2 separate regions of the Homo sapiens genome follow, and region 2 is linked to region 1. The links come from fine-mapping of genetic effects on gene expression. Tissue or cell type: fibroblasts. Region 1 holds a variant in brackets; the other region holds the start of a gene. All regions are shown on one strand. Distances are from middle to middle.

What was found. PIP is the estimated chance that this variant, and not a neighbour inherited with it, causes the effect.
Region 2: HOXD4 starts here. The variant in region 1 is the best candidate, but not a certain one, in a credible set for the expression of HOXD4 in fibroblasts (GTEx, PIP 0.78).

The regions. Positions count from the first base shown.
Region 1 is chr2:176,632,757-176,635,665 of GRCh38, forward strand. It overlaps LINC01116 (long intergenic non-protein coding RNA 1116), which reads right to left. Exons shown (of 5, transcript NR_188023.1): 2 at 277-369. Among named protein-coding and RNA genes, the nearest start is that of LINC01116, 3.4 kb to the right of the region's middle. The variant T/C (reference allele first, on the strand shown) is at 1,655.
Region 2 is chr2:176,149,766-176,152,674 of GRCh38, forward strand. It overlaps HOXD4 (homeobox D4), which reads left to right and starts at 1,785. Exons shown (of 2, transcript NM_014621.3): 1 at 1,785-2,301; 2 at 2,843-2,909. The coding sequence starts at 1,869. It overlaps MIR10B (microRNA 10b), which reads left to right and starts at 538; the gene lies at 538-647. It also overlaps a transcript of HOXD3 not described here. RefSeq lists an enhancer at 1,504-2,237.

The DNA of each region.
Region 1 (2,909 bases):
TTTACCTAATATTAAGATGAAAGCACTCTTAAGGACGGATACTATGAAGATGCCTTAAGATTGTTTGAAAGTCCAGGCTTTCAAACAATTGGTGTTCCTCTCCAAAAAGAGGAGAGTCTTTGCAGTGGGAGCATAAGGATTAGTTGGTGGATGTGGTAAAGGCAGACAAGTTTATTAAAATATATGCAAATTGCTTTCATTTGGAGGTGTGTTATAGTTTACAAAGAGCTTTGGCATGCACATGTTGTATCATTTGGTAAAAATTAGCATACCCACCATTCTTAGAAGCAATTCAGTTGTCTTCTAATACACTGCTCATTTGTGAATATTTTCTTTTCGAACAGGCAGATTTTCACTTGAAATATTGAACTGTAAGATTCACATCATAAGGGGCGATAAAGTCATATGCATTCTTAAATAAAAATAATAGCACATTCTTAAAAGGACATTTGTTTGTTTATTACTTAAATGGGTTTCAGCCACTAGCGTACATTTGGCACCAGTTGCTGTGTTTTGCTCTAGCCTGAGACTCTAATGCCTGAGCACTAGTTACTCCGGTTCTAAAAAGCTATGAATTTTGATATATAGCCTACGTTATGAAAGCTTACCTCTTTATGGCTTCAACCAGGTGAGTGTATGGCTCCGGGCTTTTCTTTTCTTTTTTTTTTTTTTTTTTTGAGACGGAGTCTCGCTCTGTCGCCCAGGCTGGAGTGCAGTGGCGGGATCTCGGCTCACTGCAAGCTCCGCCTCCCGGGTTCACGCCATTCTCCTGCCTCAGCCTCCCAAGGAGCTGGGACTACAGGCGCCCGCCACTACGCCCGGCTAATTTTTTGTATTTTTAGTAGAGACGGGGTTTCACCGTTTTAGCCGGGATGGTCTCGATCTCCTGACCTCGTGATCCGCCCGCCTCGGCCTCCCAAAGTGCTGGGATTACAGGCGTGAGCCACCGCGCCCGGCCCGGGCTTTTCTTTTAGGCTCTTTGACCTAGAGAAATGAAGCTTGGAACAGGGGATCTGCAGGCACTAACTTGTAGAGGAGAGTCCCAGAGGTGCAGGTATCATGCATTCAGTGAGCTGGGAAACTCTAGCCCGGGAACATGGAGTCACTAAGTCTTTCAATGTAGGAAAGGAGCCCCAACTGTTAAGGCAGCTAGCCAAGCAGGTGACAAACTGTTGCACTTCAAAGACAGGAAATCCCTTCAAACGTTAAATTGTAAGGACACAAAATGACCTACATTCAGGAAAATGGGGAGTCAGTAATTCCACATCAGGCTTGTTCCAGTTTATTGAAGCATGTCTGGTGGATATTAACTGGTCCTAAGGATCCCACTCTAAGTGAATGGCAGCCTTTTCCACCAGAAACCCACATTTTCAACATCTTATTTTTAAAAAGTCATTCGAGTTCACATCAGATTGAAGTTATTATGTAAGGACTCTCTCTGGGACAGTTTTCAACCCTAAAATTAGTCTAGTTTAAAATTACAATTACTCAGAATGTTTAAGAAATCTATGAACATGTTTAAAAAATCTTCTGAACATCAAAACTAAGAGAAGGCATCAGTCTACAGTGCAGTCTTAGAAAACAACTGATGGATTGCTTAAAATTGGAAAGACAGCCTAGAAGTGCCACAATATCAAGGCATAGGACTTCCTAG[T/C]AGTTTTACCCAGCTCAGAAGGCAAAGTCTAGATGGATTTCCTGCCAATCCCCAAAACTACCTAGGGCTGTGGATGCAGCAGTTTGAAACATGTGTCAATGCTAAATACTTGTCCAACTGGCTTGAAATAAAGGGAGGGCTGGGGGTGGGGATGGTTGAAGGGGGCAGAGAAATGGCATATGCTTTTCTCAAGGCAGGGCCTCTGTCCCCCAGCACTCGAAGAATTACTGAACAAATGTGTTAAGTGGGAAGGAAATGGATGGGTAAAAGCTAACTTCATCTCAGCACAAAAGAAGTTGTCCTTCCATGCTTACATTTTCAAAATGCAAAAATCCAAAAAGCATCGATATTGGAAAATTCTTGGGAAACTGAAAAGCTTAACCATATTCCATAATTTTATTAATTTAAGACCTTCCAAGCAGGGAGGTCAAACTTAACTCTGCTTCCAGCTTACAAAGCACGTCAACTTATTTTGTATGTATAGCTATAAACTGTTTGCAAGTTTCCTCAGTCAGGTACTCGGGATGAATTATGAATGGAATTAGCCAGCCTGACTTGGAATTTCCTCACTTTTACTGGTCTTTAAACAAGATTTTTATACATTCATATGTAATCGATGGAACCAACACATGAAATGGCCCTTCACATAAAACACTCTCTTTTAAAGTGATTTTGCAGTTAAGGAAACCTAAATATGAACTTCTGATGTGGAAAAGGTAGTTTTTATATGCTATTTAGAAACTGATCTGAAAAACTGATGAGCTGACCACAAGATTTCTGTCAGAAACTGAAATTAGGATTATATTTTAAAATACAATTGTAAATGCTTGCTTTCTTTTATAAAACCAATCTGCTTCTCATATTCCTAGCCTTAGTCACACTGAAAATACATAAATTTGGTATTTGGTTATTGAGTTTTGAAGTTGCAAGGCAGGATAATTTAGATATTCATAAATACAGAGCATAAGAAAATCCTTCCTGAGTGCAAAACTATCTTTAAAATAATCATCCAAAGGAGTGAATGCCACACCTCCTGATTTAATTTTGGCTATTAGCTATTCATTCCTTAATATACATTCTTCCACATAAAACTTGCACTGTCTTAAAACTTGCCTACAAACTGGCATGTCCAAATTGTGTGCATAAAAAATAAGATGAAGATCGATGCCAAGTTTTCAAGAAAGAAATGAATTTGGATTGTTTATTACACCAACAAGACACATGTTCAAATTTATCCCCTGTATATAAAAAGATT
Region 2 (2,909 bases), 480 kb before region 1:
GGTGCCTGTGAGCAGCGCCTGCCTCGGGGTCTGCAGCAGCAGCGGAACGGAGAGGCCAGCCCGGATCAGGGCCCATGAAGGTAAATGCGCGACTTCTTGGAGAAGTAGCTTTGGCAGACAACCTGGCTTGGTCGGGCAGTAGGAAAAGGAGTAGACACAGGATATTCCCCTCTCGCTTCTTTTTCTTCTGCCGCTGAGGGCATTTGTTCCTTTCTGGAAAATACCACTTGGTAAGGAGGAGGGTTATTTGGATCCTGGTGGGGGAGGGTGGTTAATAAAGCCGCCATCCTTGGGATGGATTATTTTTCTTTCTTTCTTTCTTTTTTTCTTTCTTAAGAAGAATATTCTGGTTGTTCGCCTGCTTGGTAACCCTGACCCTGGCAGAAGAATGAGGGAACTCATTGCTTCAAATTGTCGCCAAGCCCATTAGGCTACCTGAACTGTCTCAGAAAGTGCGGGTGGCTGCGTCGAACGGTGGTGGCTCAGAGGAAGAGATTGGGGCCGGCAGCGACCTAGGTACCTCACTCTGGGTGGGACCCAGAGGTTGTAACGTTGTCTATATATACCCTGTAGAACCGAATTTGTGTGGTATCCGTATAGTCACAGATTCGATTCTAGGGGAATATATGGTCGATGCAAAAACTTCACGTTTCTTCGGAATAGCCAGAGACCAAAGTGCGACATGGAGACTAGAAGCAGCCGGCGCTGGTCAGCCGCCTCGTTCTGTTTTATTACCTTGGACTCCAGGAGGATCAGCTGCGCCTGGTGACATAGAGCAGCTTTTCCTCTCCAGAAGCTCCTCACCTTTAAACAGAGTATCCTCTGGGTGCTGAAAAGAAAGAAAGACAGAAAGAGAGAAAGAGAGAGAGAGAGAGAAAGAGAGAATGCAAGCCTAATTGGTTGCATGGATGCAGGGCCAAAGGGCTAGGTTTTGGGGTACTAGGGAGTGAGGTACAAGGCCAGCTTGCCCAGTCCCAGCTCTGCCCTCCAGGAACATGAGGTGCAAAGGTACCCAAATGGGGGCTTGCTTGTATTTGGGGCCTGTGGGAAGAAAGCAAGCTTCAAAGAAGCCCAGTGGGGAGCTCTAGGGTGCATTTTGACAAGGTGGAGGTGCCCTTGCCACCATCCCAGCCCACCCCCAGCTACATGGGCAAGGGCAGCGAGGGCCCCCTGCTATTTTGGCAGGGCCCAGCTTTGGCTGGGAACCCCCGGGCCTGGGCACTGGTAGAAAGCATGGCGGTTACTCATTGCCTAATTTGATTCAAGCTGGCCAGATTCTGGTAACTTTTGGGTGACCCTGATGAAGACAAAGCCAGGACGGCGGCCTTTGTATGGCAGAATCCCTGCTCCCGCCGGCTGCAGGCAGGGCGGGCAGGCAGGAACCCTCCTCGCCTGGGGCACTCTGCCCAACTCAGAGGCGAGTTCACCCACCCACCTTTCATTGCTCTGTACCCCAATAGGAGGATTCATTCTCCCTTGAGCTGTGCCTACTTGGTGTCGGGGGGCGGGGGTTGCATTCAGCTGGGGGTGAGTGGAAGGGCCACGGAAGGTTGGCAAAATCAGTGGCAGACAAAAGCTGGGATTACCTGAGGGGAATGGGGTGCTGGGGACTGGAACTACATTAATATCTGGCAGGGGCTCTCAAATGTGCCATAGCAAGCTACTTGATTACACGTATGTTATTTAGTTAAATTTGTGAAAATTATGAGATGCTCACCAACCCGGTGATAAACTTGCTCCCTCGCCATTGGCTGGCCTGGTCACATGGCTGCCCAACTTTATTCAGTTGACAGCAAGTAGGAGGGCCCTATGGAAGGAGAAAAAAAGACAACACGAGAAAAATTAGTATTTTCTACCTTCTGAAATTAATGGTCATGAGTTCGTATATGGTGAACTCCAAGTATGTGGACCCCAAGTTCCCTCCGTGCGAGGAGTATTTGCAGGGCGGCTACCTAGGCGAGCAGGGCGCCGACTACTACGGCGGCGGCGCGCAGGGCGCAGACTTCCAGCCCCCGGGGCTCTACCCACGGCCCGACTTCGGTGAGCAGCCTTTCGGAGGCAGCGGCCCCGGGCCTGGCTCGGCGCTGCCTGCGCGGGGTCACGGACAAGAGCCAGGCGGCCCCGGCGGTCACTACGCCGCTCCAGGAGAGCCTTGCCCAGCTCCCCCGGCGCCTCCGCCGGCGCCCCTGCCTGGCGCCCGGGCCTACAGTCAGTCCGACCCCAAGCAGCCGCCCTCCGGGACGGCACTCAAGCAGCCGGCCGTGGTCTACCCCTGGATGAAGAAGGTGCACGTGAATTCGGGTAAGGCTAGGGTCCAGTAACCTTTCTGTCCACATCCCAGCCCGTTAGCCTGGGTCCTCTGGAAGGGGGTGCGAGTAGGTGGGGGCGTGTGGAGCTTCCATGGGCGCCGCAATTACTCTCCCCATAAATTTTTATAGCTGAGGGAGCAGGTCAGGACCATGTGGCTGGCTGCTCGGCTGTGGGCGCAAAAGGGGGTGGGGATGGGGGGGTGGGGGAGGACTCCATTTTCAGAGCAGGGGGAAGGCTGTGGAGGAGCGGGGGATTTCCAAAATGCTTGAGGGTTCCGGACCTGGTGGTGGGCCCAGAAGAAGGAGCACATTTGGGGATCCCGCAAGCCTGGGGTATGTGGGTGTGTTTGAGGAGGTGGGTGGGAGTGAGCGTGTGCGCCGGGGAGAGGGCGGGAGGGAGGAAGCAAGCGAGCTTGGGAGCGCGCGGGGAGGGCCGCGGGCCTCGGGGCGCGCCAGGAAGTGAGCGGCGGAGGCGAGGGGCCTAACTAGTGGCCGGGCGCTGACCTGCCTGTCCTGTCTGTTTTGTCTCGCAGTGAACCCCAACTACACCGGTGGGGAACCCAAGCGGTCCCGAACGGCCTACACCCGGCAGCAAGTCCT